2 separate regions of the Homo sapiens genome follow, and region 2 is linked to region 1. The links come from fine-mapping of genetic effects on gene expression. Tissue or cell type: skin. Region 1 holds a variant in brackets; the other region holds the start of a gene. All regions are shown on one strand. Distances are from middle to middle.

Evidence for each region. PIP is the estimated chance that this variant, and not a neighbour inherited with it, causes the effect.
Region 2: it holds the start of TMX4, and the variant in region 1 is fine-mapped to the expression of TMX4 in skin (TwinsUK, PIP 0.95).

What each region holds. Positions count from the first base shown.
Region 1 is chr20:7,571,776-7,579,886 of GRCh38, reverse strand. No RefSeq gene overlaps it. Among named protein-coding and RNA genes, the nearest start is that of MIR8062, 200 kb to the right of the region's middle. The variant A/T (reference allele first, on the strand shown) is at 4,250.
Region 2 is chr20:8,015,149-8,023,259 of GRCh38, reverse strand. TMX4 (thioredoxin related transmembrane protein 4) reads left to right here and starts at 3,499. Exons shown (of 8, transcript NM_021156.4): 1 at 3,499-3,822. The coding sequence starts at 3,647. TMX4-AS1 (TMX4 antisense RNA 1) reads right to left here and starts at 3,354. Exons shown (of 7, transcript NR_184034.1): 1 at 3,156-3,354; 2 at 1,999-2,869; 3 at 1,105-1,201; 4 at 811-879; 5 at 493-703. RefSeq lists silencers at 3,499-3,738, 3,849-3,988.

The DNA.
Region 1 (8,111 bases):
GTGAAGAGAACTTCTCCAAGGGGTTAGAACCACAGAATTGCATCTGATTGTTCACTTTTCTGGAAGGAGAAATGGTCTGATATGAGATTACATACCGAGTCATGGTCTGTGACCTATGGTTGGCTGGATGATCAGGAAATTGAAAAAAACATGATTGATAAATTAATAACAAAAAATTGGGGGAAGAACTTTCTGTATAAACACATCTAAATGGGAAAAATCATGGAGGCATTTGTACCCCATATGAATGCTTCAAAAGAAGACATCATCAGATGATGATTTTAATAATTTAATTGACAGAATGATCCATTGTATGGATACCAGACAATTTCTTTCTCCAGACCCTTTCATGACCCAGTGAGCTCATAAAAATGTGGTTATGGTGTGAGAAATGGAGGTGATGCATGAGGTCAGCAAAATCAACTTCCACTTACCAAGGCTGACCTGGCTACAGCCACCACTGGGTATTCAATTTGCCAGTAGCAAAGAACAACATTGAGTCTTCAATATGGCACTATTCCCCAGGGAATTAGCCTGCTACCTGGTGGCAAGTTGATTACATTAGAATGCTCCCATCATGGAAGGGGCAGTGTTTTGCGTTTATTTGGATAGACATTTACTCTGGATACAAATTTCTCTTCCCTACATGCAATACTTCTGCCAAAACTACCGTCTATGAATTTTCAGACTGTCTTTTTCACTGATACATTGTCTTATTCCACACAGCATTGCTTCTAATCAATACACCCACTTCACTGCAAATGAAGTGTGGCAATGGGCCCATACTCATGGAATTCACTGGTTTTACCATGTTCCCCACCATCATGAAGCAGCTGGATTGGTAAATCTGTAGAATGATCTTTTGAAGACTCAGTTACAGTACTAGGTACATGACAATGCCTTGCTGGGCTGGGGCAAGTTCTCCAGAAGGCTATATATCTGGTCTCAATCAGCATCCAATATATGGTGTGGTTTCTCCCATAGCCAGTGTTCATGAGTCCAGGGTTGCAAGTGGGAATGGCATCACTCACTATGACCCTTAATGACCCACTTGCAAAATTTTTGCTTTCTGTTTTCATGACTTTATGATCTGCTAGCCTAAATATTTTAGTTCCAAAGGGAGGAGACATTTCCACCAGGAGACAAAACAGTGACTCTATTGAAGTGGAAGTTAAGACTCCTGTCCAGGGACTTTGGTTTCCTGCTGCCTCTAAATCAACAGGCAAAGAAGGGAGTTACTCTGCTGGCTGAGACGATTGATCCTGACTACCAAGGAGAAACTGACTACACAATGGAGGCATGGAAGAATATTTCTGGAATACAGTAGATTCTTCTGGATGCCTCTTAGTATTACCATGCCCTATGATTAAGGTCAATGGGAAACTATAGCATTGAAATCAAGGCAGGATTATTAATGTCTCAGGCCCTTGAGGACACCCTTCATCTGGAGTTTGGGTAACTCCACCAGATAAAGAACTAGATAAAGGATTTTCTGAAGGCAAAGGAAATACAGAGTGGCTAGTAGAGGAAGGCTGTTATAAATAACAGCTGTGACTGTGTGACCAGTTACAGAAAGGAGGGCTGTAGTTGTTGAACATATCCCTCTTACCTTGTTGTCAATATGTTGCATGTATTTATATGCATGTATGTCTATAAATATATATATATCTTTTCTCTCTTATTCTCTTACCATGTAACGTAAGATGTATTCACTTTTATATCATAGTATTTAAATAGCATTTGAATATTAAATACATAGTATTTAAAAAATATTTTGCATTATCGTAATGCAAATATAAGTTATGGGATATCGAAGAGAAAAGTAAATACTCAAGCACTTTATCTCCTCTTCTGAAAAAGAGGCTGGTGTGTTTTTAGTTGTATGGAGAATTGTATCAGGTGGAATTATAACCTTGTTATTGTCTTTATTTGGATATTAGGTAGGTTTAAGGAGATGAATATAGGTACCCATTTGAGAAGGAATGGACTTATGTTTTTTCCAGCTTTATTGAGGTATAATCAACAAATAGAAACTGTCTATATTAAAGGTGTACAATGTGACATTTTGATATTTGTATGCATTGTAAAATGATTACCACAACTAATCTAATTAACATATTTATCACCTCATATAGTATATTAGTTCCTCTTGCTCTGCTATACAGGAATACCTGAGACTGGGTAATTTATAAAGAAAATAAGTTTATTTGGCTCATAGTTTTGCAGGCTGTATAAAAAGTGTGGAATAGGCATCTGCTTGGCTTGTGGTGAGGGCCTCAGGAAGCTTTTACTCATGGCAGAAGGTAAAGGGAGTCAGCATGTCACATGGCAAGAGAGATTAGCAATAGGGAGAGGAGGGAGGTGCCAGGCTCTTTTCAATAATTAGATCTGCAGGTTACCTTCAGGATGGCACAAAGCCATGCATGTTGGATCCACCTCCATAACCCAAACAATCCCACCCACCAAGCCCCATCTCTGACCTTGCAGATCAAATTTCAACATGAGATTTGGAGGGAACAAATATGCAAAGTATATCACATGTTTTTTTTTTTGTGGTAAGAACATTTAACACCTACTGTACTAAAAATCATAGTCACGATGCCATACATTAGGTCTCCAGAATTTATTCATCTTGCATAACTGAAATTTTTTACTTTTTCAGACACCTCCTCATTTCTTCCATTCTCCAACCTCTGGCAACCACCAATCTACTCTCTGCTTCTATGAGTTTGACTCTTTTTGATTCCACATATATGTGAGATTATTCAGTATTTGTCTTTCTGTATGGGCTTATTTCACTTAACATAATGTCCTCTAGGTTCATCCATGTTGTCACAAATGACAGAATTTCCTACTTTTTAAAGGTTGAATAATATTCCATTTTATACTTACATATTATATGCATATTATATGTATGTATACAATGTTTTCTTTATCTGCATTTTCTTTATCCATTTATCTGTTAGTGGACACTTAGGTTGGTTCTATATTTTGGCTCTTGTGAGTGATATTGCAATGAACATGGAAGTGCAGATATCTCTTTGAGATACTGATTTTATTTTCTTTAGATATATACCCAAAAGTGGGATTGCTGGATCATATGGTAGTTCTATTTTTAATTTTTTGAGCAACCTCCACACAATTTTACATAATGGCTAAACAATTGAAATTCCCACTGACAATGCACAAGCATTTTCTTTTCTCAACATTCTTGTCAACACGTGTTATCTTTTGTCTTCTTTTTTTTACTATAGCCGTTATTTTCTTATTGATACAAAATATTTTACATATTTAACGAGTACATGTGAATATTTGTTACATGCATATAATGTGCAATGATCAAGTCAGGGTGTTTGTGTTTTCCATCACTTGGAGTATTTATTATTTCTTTATGTTGGTGGTATTTCAAGTCCTCTGTTCTAGCTACTTTGAAATACACAATACACTGTTGCTATCTGTAGTTACCATACTCTGGTATTGAATATTGGGGCTCATTTCTTCTAACTTGTATTTTTGTATCCACTAACCAACTCTTCATTCTCCCCTCCACCCACATACTCTTCTCAGCCTCTGGTACCTAACAATCCATTATCTATCTCCATGAGATAAACTTTTTTAGCTCCCACCACATATGAGTGAGAACATGTGGCTTCTGCCTTTCTGTGCCTGGCCTATTTCACTTAATATAATGACCTCCAGTTTCATCCACATTGCTACAAATGACATGGTTTTATTCTTTTTTCGTCACGTGAATAGCATACCATCGTATCTATATACAACATTTTCTTTATCAATTTATCTGTTGATGGACACTTATGTTGAGTCCACACTTTTGCTTTTGTGAATAGTGCTGCATAATTTCTCATTGTGTTTTTTTTGCATTTTTTTGATGATTTGTGTTGTTGAGTATTTTTTCATATACCTCTTGGCCATTTGGATGTTTTCTTTTGAGAAAGGTATATTCAGTCCCATTTAATATTTTCTTCCATGCTATAGGTTTTCTCTTGACTCTGTTTATTGTTTTTTTTTGATATGCAACATCTTTATAGATTGATGTAGTTCCAGTTGTCTATTTTTGGTTTTGATGCGTGTGCTTTGGGGGTCATAGCTAAAACTCATTACCTATACGAATGTCAAGAAGTCTTTTTCCCTGTTGTTTTTCTAGTAGTTTTACAGTTACAAGCCTTATGGTTACGTACTTAATTCATTTTGAGTTGGTTTTGTACAGGGTCTAATGTCATTGTTCTGC[A/T]TGTAAATATAGTTTTTCCAACACCGTATATTGAAGAAACTATCATTTTTCTATTGTGTACATCTGTTACCTTTGCCAAATTCATTTGACTTTATAATCCATGAACGTACTTCCAGGCTTTCTGTTCTTTTCCATTGGTCCCTATGTCTGTTTTTATGCTAGTATCATTTCGTTTTGATTACTGTAGCTTTGTAGTGTGTTTTGAAATCAGGTAGTGTGATGCCTCCAGTTTTATTCTTCATTCTCAAAATTGCTTTGGCTAGTCTGGGTCTTTTGTGGTCCCATATGAATGTTAAGAAATTATTTTCTACTTATGTGAAAAATCACTTTGGAATTTCATTAGGGATTGCACTGAATCTGTAGATTGTGTTGTGTAGGATGCACATTTTAATAATATTAATTTTTCCAAACCAGGAACATGACATCTCTTTATTTAATTGTGTCTTTTTCAATTTCTTACACCAGTGTCACGGTTTTCATTGTAAATCACTTTCACTTCCTTAGTTAAATATACTCCTAAGTATTTTTAAAATGTTATTGTAAATAAAATAATTCTCTTAATTTTTTAAGATAGCTTGTTTATTGTATAAAACTTTAGTGATTTTTGTATGTTGATTTTGTATCCTGCAACACTTGCGACACTACTAAATTTGTTTATTACTTTTAACAGTTTTTCGGTGGAGTAGTCAGGGTTTTATATATGTAAGATCATGTCATTTGTAAACAAAGACAGTTTTATTTGTTCCTCTCTGATTTGGATGCCTTTTATTTCTTTTTATTGATGAATAATTGCTCTGGCTAGGATTTTGAGTACTATGTTGAGTAGAAGTGATGTGAGTAAGCACCATTGTCTTGTTCCTTATTTTAGAGGAAAAGTTGTCAGCTTTCTACGGTTGACTATGATGTTATAAGTGGGCTTGTCATATATGGCCTTTATTCTGATAAACTACATTATTCCTGTATTTAATAGGTTGAGAGTTTTATCACGAAAGGATGTTGAGTTTTGTCTAATGATTTTTCTGCATCTATTGATATTTATTTTTTATCATCCATTCTTATAATATGATGTATCGCATCTGTTGATTTGCTTATATTCGAACATCCTTGCATTTTAGAGATAAAACCCACTTAATCATGATGTATAATCTTTTTTTAATGTGCCGGTGAATTTGCTTTGCTAATATTTTGTTGAGGATTTTTCCATTTAAGTTCATAAGGAATATTGACTTGTAAACATAAAATCTACCAAGACTGTATCATGAAGAATTAGAAAATATAGGTAAACCAATAATAAGTAAAGAGATTGATTCAGTAATCAAAAAGCTCTCCACAAACAAAAGCCCAGGATGTATATTCTACCAGATATCTAAGGAAAAATTAATGCCAATCATTCACAAACTCATACAATAATTGAACAGGAGGAAATTACCCAATAAATTTTATAATCAGTATTAATTACCCCAACACCAAAGTCACCAAAGATATTACAAGAAAACAAAATTATAGGCCAATATTTTAGTGATGGTTAATTTTATGTGTCAACCTGTTTGGGCCACCAGGTGTGGAAATTTTGGTCAATCATTATTCTCAGCGTGTGTATGTAGACGCTTTTGCATGTGAATAACATTTGATTTGTAAGACTGAGTAATATAGATTGGCTTTCTCAATGTGAGTTTCTCTTATTTAATCAGTCAAAAACTTGAATAGAACAAAAAGTTGACTTGGTCTTAAGAGAGAACTCTTTCTGCTTGGTGATTGAGCTAGAACATAGGTCTCTTCCTTTCTTTAGACTCAAACTAAAACATTGGCTCTTCTTGGCTCTTGAGAATGTCAGCTTTCAGGTTGGAACTTACATCATTGGCTCTCCTGATTCTCAGGCCTTCAAATTCAGGCTGGAACTGGAACTCCACTACTGGCTCTTCTAGGTCTCCAGCCTGCTTACTGAAGATCTTAATACGTCCCAGCCTCCATAATCATGTGAGCCAATTCCTTATAATAAATATATTTATATATTTATATATTATACATTACCTAAATAGATATTATACATATTATATAAATATATAAAGAGATTTATAAGATATATATGTATAAATATTATATATATATACATTATGTTTCTATAGAGAACCCTGGATATTACCTTGATTAGGCCACATTGGAGCTAGTAAGTGTCAATGTTGGGATACATCCATGTTTGTCTGATTTAATGGCTGTGCTCATATTATCTCCTGTGCCATAGTTGAGTTCTGCTTATTGAATAGTGAAGGTGGATAGAGACTCAGAGGTCCCCCATATCTCTTGCTGATGCCTCATTGCCTAAATGCTTAGTGAATCTTGTCTTGTATTTTGATTGATTTGCTGTATGAAAATTATCCCCAAATTTAGTAGTATAAAACAGCAATCATTTCATTTTGCTCACTCATTTACGGTTAAGAAATTCAGGAAAGGCTTGGCTAGGTTACTCTTTCATGGGGTCTCTCATGTGGTTGCAGTGAGCTGTCCCCTAGGGTATCAGTTGCCTGAAGCTCAACTGAATTGAACCTCCAAGATGGCTCAGTAACTTGACTGATAGTTGATTCTTGGTATTGGCTTCGGGGCTTGGCCAGACTGTCAGCCAGAGTACCAGAGACTTTCCATCACAGTAATCTCAGAGCAGTCAGACTTTCTTCATGGTGGCTGACCTCTTTCAGAGGGAGCAGACTGTTTAATCTGGTGGAAGCCACAGGGTGTTTTTGGCCTAGTCACAGAAGCCATATAATACTATGTCAACTGTGGTTTATTGATTGTAAATGCATCACTGAGTTACGACCAGATTCAAGGGAAGGAAACAGAGATCCCGCCTCTTAACAGAAGGGGTATCAAAGATTTTGTGGGCATGTTTAGAAAGTGCCATGCATTATTATTTTAGGATCTAGGTATCTCTAGATATGGCATAAGACCAGAAAATGGACTTTGAAATGAGGTCATGATTTTAACCTTCTTCCGTCATTTATTGCTCTATAGCTGTGGACAAATTAATTTAAGTATATTGGTTAGCGACCTTCTCTGAAAAAAGAGGGTGTTGATACCTACTTTGCAGCTGAAGAAAGTATATGTGCAAGTTTCTTATACTAATTAGTACTCAATTAATATTTGAATGATGGTTTTATACCTCCTTCACTTAACTCACCAATTCCTATTATTTTTAGGTATAATTTAGAGACATATCAGGATATGATTTACAATTTGATTTTTCCTTTAGAGACAGTGGATGCATTACAAACTTAATCTATGTATTAAGCCCGAAACAAAATTAACTGTGGCCCAAAGATACACATTGCTACATCATGGATCATGGCATGATCCACGCTATACCATGAATCAAATCATGGTGTATACGTCATATATCTTTTTTCATGTAAGATAGTTAAACAAGTGCAGTCACAGAACATCTCAGATCAAATCCAAATCCCTGGTTGATCTACTCTGATAAAAATTTTTTTCTTTCTAATTTAAAGCTATTTGATAAAAAGTTTCATTGTATTGGAATCCAGAGGAATCTATTACCTGGAATTCACAAAAAGAGTTTAACCAAATGAATAAATCGAATTTAAGGAGCAATGGCATGTAGAAGACAAAAGCCAGGGACTCGCATGGAGTAACACAAAATTCCCCATATGGAAGTCATTTAAGCTTCAATTTTTCACATGGTAGGGATGAAAACATTCTTCTGCTATGGAGCTTCATAAAGCACGTCAGGCATTTTCTTGCACCAGCCTTTTACACATCTGTCAATTGGAGAAGTTAACCTCTCTGCTGTTTTGATGAGAAAAAGATAAAAATCGAAGTCTTGGTGATTTTATAGGGGTGCTGGCTGCTT
Region 2 (8,111 bases), 440 kb before region 1:
ACATACCCACCCCTTCCATTTGTAGCCCATTGGCCAATTCATATAAATATGACTAACTTCTGAGGGGTGTAGGAGCATCCTCCTCTGTGGGGCAGGGAAAGAGAGGGGGACTAGATAGGATCTACCACACTCTTCTTCCCCTCTCTCCTGCTAATGATGTTACCTCATCAGAGGCCTAGGAATTCCTTTGCCTACTAGGAACCACATATTTTTGTGTAATCATAGCTGCCCTGCAGTGCCACCATCACTCTGGGGGAAAAAGCCTTTTCTCCTAGTACCAGGTACCAATCTTCTTAAACCTGTAAATCCACGTTTTAAACATAAACATGGATCACACACTGACCTAGCATAGCATTACAGCATAACAAATTGCCCCAAATCTTAGTGGCTTGATATTATGTAACAACATTGATTACCTCACAGTTTCCGTGGGTGGAGGTCCCAGCTAAGCTAAGCTTTGCCCCCTGGTTCTGGGTCATTTATAAGGCTCACCCGTCTCAAGAGCACTGGTGACAGATTTGCTTCTAGGTCACTCATGTGGTTGTTTGAAGATCCAGTTCTTTGAGGGCTGTTGGGCTGAGGTCTCAGTTGCTTAGGCTGCAGACCTCCCTTGTCACATGGAGCTCTCCACACAGAGTCGCAGAGTGAGTGTGCAAGAGGAAAAGAAGTTTCCAGCAAAATGGAAGTCTCAGGTTTTTGTAACCTTAACAAAGAAGTGATAATCCATCAGTTTTCCCATCTTCTGTTAGAAGTGGGTCACCAGGCCCAACCCACACTCAAGAGGAAAGGATCACACAAGGGCCTGAATACCAGGAGGGAGAGATCTTGGGAGGAGTGCCAGAAGCTGTCTATCCCAAGTACATCTATGGGATGGGTATTCTGCAATACAGGGGACACAAAGATATATAAGGTAAAGCCCTTGACCTTGAAGAGTTTTTAGTAGTGGTTGGAGGAGTGAGGGTAGAGGGTGATAGCTACATATAAATGCATTATACTATGAAAGGTATGTGGTGAAGTTATTGTATTAGTCCATTTTCACGCTGCTGATAAAGACATACCCGAGACGGGGTAATTTATACAGGAAAAAGTGTTTATTCAACTCACAGTTCCTCATGGCTGGGGAAGCCTCACAATCATGGTGGAAGGCACGGAGGAGTAAGTCATGTCTTACGCGGATGGCAGCAGGCCAAAAGAGAGACAGCTTGTGCAGGGAAATTACCATTTTTAAAACCATCAGATCTCATGAGACTTATTCACTATCACGAGAACAACATGGGAAAGACCCGCCCCCATGATTCAATTATCTCCCATGGGGTCCCTCCCACAACACGTGGGAATTAGGGGAGCTACAAAATGTGATTTGGATGGGGACACAGAGCCAAACCATATCAGTTATACAGAAGAGCAATTGGATCTGAGAAGAGACAGCAGCTCATTCTGCATGAGCTATCAGAGGTACAGTGTGGACTACATGACAGAGACTGAATGATTCACTGGACAACTGGAGAAGAGTGTTCTAATCAGAATGAAGGAGCAAGGAGACACTGAAGTACACAATGTGCTTTGGGAATGGGGAGTAGCTTTGTGTTACTAGGACACAGGGAACTCTGGGAATAGTGGAATGTAAAGTGGGCAAAACTGAAGCTGGGCTGTGAGAGGCATTGTGTATCATGCTAAGTGAAGTTAACTTTAGTATAAGAAAAATAGACATTACAGCGTATTGTTGCCTCCAAATAATAATATTAGTGTTGGCAATATTGTGGCAAAAACCACAATTATGTTTGCACCAACCTAATATGTAAGCTTTTTGAGTTAGAATATGTGCTAGGCATTATTCTTATCTCATATAATCTTCACAGCCACCTTTTGGAGCAGGTTCTATTACTACCCGCATTTTAAGAGAACTTTGGTGTGGACTAGTTTTAGCCCCAAATCACATGGCTAGGAAGTGTCAGGGCTAAGATGCCAATCATGGTCTGACAGCAACAGGTCCCTTACCCTGGTCTGTGACTCCTTACGGCAAGGTCAGTCCCATACTTCCTTGCTACTTTCTTCCTACCATCCTTAGTCTGAAGGCTAAGACTTCAGTTTTTGTTAAAGATAGGAAATGCTTTGGTAATGGCTGTCTTTCATGCTGAAGATGCTCTCTCTCCTTTTAGCTTTTCATTTTGTAAATTTTCCAACATATGCATGAGTAGGTAAAGTAGCAAAATGAACTTAGCTTCAACACTGACTGATGTTGCACCACTTTTCTTTCACCTATCTTCTTTCCATTCCCTACATTTTATTTCTGGAGCATTGTAAAACAAATTCTACACATCATTCTATCATGAAAGTGATAAAATGACAGAATTCCTGTTTATGAGTCACTTCTTTTTACAAGCACAGTAAAATGTTTTCCATTGAGTTTATGGAATTGATATGTATGTACTTAATAACAGTGAGTCTTAGTAGCATTCATTGCAAAGACATTTTCTTAAATTTCAATAGTTTGTAAACCCTTGAGTGTTTTATTTTAATGATAAGGGCTAGGTCCACATAGTTTTTAGCTAATACTAATTAATGCATAATGCAGGCCAGATCTTCTCTTCAGGCAAAATTAACTTCCCTCTCCTATAAGTATTGATTGAAATTTGCTCTCATGTGCCCTGAAGTACTTTTAGTCTTATTGCTGTCTTTGTTTTAAGCCGAGGGCAGAAACCACATCCTTTTCATGGTCTATTAACCACATTACCGAGGTTCATGGTTTGCACAACTAGTAAACACATACAAAGCACCCTTTGAGAAAGCTTCCTCATCCTTTAATTGTAATCCAGTCTTATATATTAACGGTGTGGTGGTCCCAAGGTACAGATTCATCTAATGTGACCTGGAAAGAAATTTGGAAATCACTTAAGGCTACCCTCATTTTAGATCTGACAAAACTGTAGTCAAGAGAAATGTGAGGTCCATTTTACTGCAGGTGGCAATAGTCTTAATTGACTCATTTTATCGGCTAGTACCCATGTTTTTAAGAGTTTCTATGAAATTAACATTTTTTGTAAAAAAAATGCAATTGCATAGGCTAGTTTCATCAATATCCTAAATTAGTGATGCTTCAATATACACATGCAGAGTACTTAAATTTTCCTCTCTCTTCAGCAGGAGATACTCACCACGTCCCTCCATTTTTCATTAAACATACGTGTACCTTGCAGCCCGTTGCTTTTATATTTGCTATCATTGAAGAGGGGATGGATTTTAAAATTACTGGCCATGTTTCCCTTTAGAGAAGCCCACACGCGCCAACCCTGCCCTTATTGGAGCCTGGGCAGCAGCGGTGCATGTTCTAACTTAGGCAACGTTGGGTCATCTGTTTATTGTCAGCTTGGCGGTCAGGAAGAAAGGGCGGTGGTTGCTGAGGTAACCGACACCCCGGGCAACGGCAAGTGGAGGCGGGAGGGGGCGTGGCCTCGACGGGCAAGCGGCGATAAGAGGTGGCGTCCTCCGCGGCATTGCGAGCACCGCCAGTCTGCGCCGCTAGGCGTAGGCGGGGTGGCCCTTGCGTCTCCCGCTTCCTTGAAAAACCCGGCGGGCGAGCGAGGCTGCGGGCCGGCCGCTGCCCTTCCCCACACTCCCCGCCGAGAAGCCTCGCTCGGCGCCCAACATGGCGGGTGGGCGCTGCGGCCCGCAGCTAACGGCGCTCCTGGCCGCCTGGATCGCGGCTGTGGCGGCGACGGCAGGCCCCGAGGAGGCCGCGCTGCCGCCGGAGCAGAGCCGGGTCCAGCCCATGACCGCCTCCAACTGGACGCTGGTGATGGAGGGCGAGTGGATGCTGAAATTGTGAGTGTGCCCGCCCGCCCCGGACGCCGCAGTGTCCTCGCGGGCGTCACCCTCCCAAGCCCGCGCGGCCCGGTGGCGATCCCGCATTGCCGCTTGGGCTCAACCTAAAACCCCGGACCAGGCTTGCCAACAACCTGCGGCGCCGGTGCCGGGCCGCTTGCGATCCTGCACTGCCGCTGGGCTCGACCTGGGGTCCGCGGACCCGCCTTACCAACGACCTGCGGCTGTGGGGCCCGGCCGCTCGCGCCGCGCATGCGCGCCGAGCCCTCGCGGTGACAGCCGAGGGTGCAGCGCGTCCCCTTGCTTTGGGGGACAGTGTTTTCGGGGTGGAGTGGGCAGCTTCCCATAGGGAGGAGAAGGGAAGGAAGAAAATCTGCAAGCAAACCGTGTGCTTTTAGATACAGATATGTATTGGAAGAGAAAGGACATTCAGTGACATCCACGTGCAGTATGAATACGTAGCACAGGCTAAGCAAGTTACCTGTTGAAGAAATTGCAGCACGGTGAAGGCAGGCCATTTGTGTCGTAGTCTTCCGTTTGAAGACCTGGAGATGTCATTGTGAGAATAAAACATAAATATGGATGCCTTTTAAATTTTACAGTATGATTTCAAATAAATGTTGATACTTATTATAACTTGTAAAGGTAGGACTTTCTGAGTAATATTAATAATTGTGCCATAAAGAAAAGAAGATACGCATTGCCCCTTTTAACAATAGAAAGCAAATGGTGGATAGTGCCTTTTCTTTAAGGAGATGGGAAACTACAGTTTTGAGTTAGGAGAAAGAAAGGGATTTGTTGATTATAGTTTAACCTTATAATAGGAAGTGACCATTTGAAAGAGGCTTGCAGTGGATGGTGGGCAGATGTCTGAGCGGGCTTGAGAGACCATCATGGTGGGCTTGCAGACTCTCTCTCTCTCTCTCTCTCTCTCTCTCTCTCTCTCTCTCTCTCTCCCCCTCCCTCCCTCCCTCCCTCCCTCCCTCCCCCTCTCTCTCTCTCTCCTCTCTCTCTTCTCTCTCTCTCTCTCTCCCTCCCTCCCTCCCTCTCTCTCTCTCTCCTCTCTCTCCTCTCTCTCTCTCTCTCTCCCTCCTCTCTCTCTCTCTCTCTCTCTGTCTCTCTCTCCCCTCCCACAACTCCTTTCCACCCTACCTGCCCCCCTCCCGCCCCCACCCCCCAAACATAAAATCTTTCAGGAAATTGCCACATCTCTTTAGCCTGTGGTTTCTGGCAATCTGTATACTACTATTGAATCTTTGTTTTACGTTGAGGACACAGACAGAAAATTGGATCTTTCCTTTATCCAAGACCAAGTTTTGATTCTTTCAATTTAAATTGCAAGCAGGTGCCTATGGAGTGAAAACCTCAGTGTGAGATCAGAGCCAAAATTTATGTCACACAGCAGATTACATTGCTCGAAGAACATAAGGCATATCACCCCTTCAAATGTGCATTTACCTCTTAGTCACAAAGAAGGGGATATTTTAGACCTCCAAATGAAATACCCTTGGTATCATAATAAATCAATGAAATTATTAAAGGGAACTGTAGACATGAATTATTAAAATATTCCACTTAACTATTTTTGGAAGAAGGTGAGGGGGTCATATTCTATTTGAGAAACTTTTAAAATAAGTGGAGCTGTGTTAAGACTTCCATGTTTGTAATAATTTTAAGAGTTTGGGATAAACTGCATTTTGTCAGCCAATACTACAGAAAGTTCTCTTTTCAGTAGGTGCTTACAAAATGGACTTTTTCCTAGATGTCATCTTTCAGGGTAAAACTGAGTTTGCATATGTATGTAAGAAAAGTTAAAACAGAAAGGCCTCCTCATTTTTAATGACTTCAACTCCTCTATGGTTCCTTTTGGAATTGCTTTTTTTTTGGTAATAGAATTAAGAACACTAAAGCCTCAATAAGTTTTTGAGGGAGAGCCAACAACATCTGTGCTTGGCCATGTTGATGGTTCAAATTTTACTTTTTTATGAATGTATAAACCTAAACATAGTAATCAATTGCTCTGAGTTTGTCATGTGTCCAGTTGTATGGAATATGCTTGGCCTGTGATGCCAGATGAGTCTTGTAATCTGGAAGTAAGCTGTGTAGACACAAGGTCATTTTAGTAGACATTCTCTTTTTATCGAGTGCACTTCAGAATAGGTGGCTAGGAAGCAAGGCTGTCAATGAAAATTGATCCAAACCATTCCATCCAACTTCTTTATACGCACTAAAACCCAAGTGCTCATCCTGAAGAAATATTTTGGTTCTTATCTATTTGTGATCTATTTTTTTCTGTATTATCAGGTGATACTCCTCCTCCTTGCTGTGAAAAAAACTCCAGTACTTAAAAAAATATAAAATTCATTATATCCTCCATACCACTAGAGGCCTGCTATGAATTTCTAAGAATTCATTTAAATAGCCTATACGTTACCAGATTTTTTTTTTTATGTATATAACAGAGAAAAACAAAATGCATTAAAATTAGCTTCATCTTGACACTTAGTTCAGATGAGCTGGTCATACATAAATGGAAATTGTTAGTAGTTCAAAGATGTTGTAGTTAACTTCTTTAAAGAAACAGATTGAGAAGCTTTTGTTGTAGTTAACTTCTTTAAAGACACAGATTGAGAAGCTTTCCGATATCAAAATGTATTCATTACTTTGAATGAGAGTTCTTTATTTGTTCATTTGCTTATATGCGCTCTTTCATCTGGGAATTTTTTCTTTTATACGCCACGTCATACAGATCCCCTCTAATGCAGTTTCTGGTTATATTGGTATAGATAATTTATTCTTAAGAATCTAGCAGTATTTGGCAGCCCTGAGACATGAAAAGCTTCTATTATGAAATTAAATTTGGTTATTTTTTCTTAGTCTTTCAAACAGTCAATTTTTTGGATTCTTGCAATTGAATTTCCAGTGTTTTAAAAATGTATGAGTTAAAAGTATATTTGCAGTAATTCACCGTTTCTATTCTGATGATTTTAGAAATCTGAAAAGTTCTCCCATTGCTACATACATTTTCTTTAATGCTATGGGCTTATTGTTGTTATTATTATTTTTTAGATGGAGTCTCACTTTGTCGCCCAGGCTGGAGCGCAGTGGTGCGATTTCAGCTCAGTGTACCCTCTGCCTCCCGGGCTCAAGCAATTCTCCTGCCTCAGCCTCCCAAGTAGCTGGGAATACAGGCACCCGGCTATGGGCTTATTGTATACTCGTTTGCCCTTTTTCTGAATTAGGAAAAATGATCTAATCTTTAAACTACTGTATGATGCATGCTTTTCTCTATTGCCATTGTTTTATACTATTCTTCATTCAGTTCCTTTGCAACCTTTTGCTACTTTCAACATTTGCTTGGCTCTCATTATGTCAGTCCTGGAGAAAATGACTTTTGTTCTTTTGAAACATGGAAGTATGTAATATGATACATTCTGGTGGCTTTTTCCCCCAGAAGAAATAGATAGCCAAGTGGCTTAATTTTGACATTCAAGCTGATACTCAGAAGAAAAGTATGTCTTTGGGTTAGTTTACCTCTGTAAAGCATATAAATCTTTATAAATTATTGCCTTTTCTTATTTTTGTTTTTGGAATGATCATGTTTCAAAATTTAAATTAAACACCTGGTGATGGAGCAAAGCTTTGTTTATTTCCATAGGACATCTAGGTTTTAGTATTATCTTTCCAGCCTTCCTTTATACCTGGAGAGAATGTGTTGAACATCATTACCTTAACTTGCCCATGTCAAGTTAGAATTTCTTGCAGTTTAATAGATTGTCTTGATGTCTTGATGGAATGTTTGAGAGACAACTCACTAAATGCTTGTGTGTCAGGTTCAGTGTTGGGGAGCTGGGAAGGTGAAGAAGAATGAGCCTTCCAAGAGATTGTGCTCTGAAGGAAATATGTAGTATAAGTTATGTTCATTTATTTAGTAAATGTTTAATGAATGCTTCCTCTGTGTTGGACATTCATCAGTGCTTCCCAACAGGACACTATTGGCATTTTGGGTGGACAGTTCTTTGGTGTGTGGGAATGGCCCACGTGTTGCAGAACCTTTGGCATACTTGCCCATTATATTCTAGTAGTAGTCTCAGTCATGCGACATCAAAAAATTGTAACTCCCATTCCCTGTGCATACTTCCAAATGCTTCTAATTGAAAACCACTGCTCTAGATACTGTTATGGGTATTTAAAAACATGCGAATGTTTGATTTTAGATGGTTTCCACAAAGGGTTTAAAGCCTCATTAAAACTTGTCATCCTTACCACTTCCATCCACCTCCTCCACT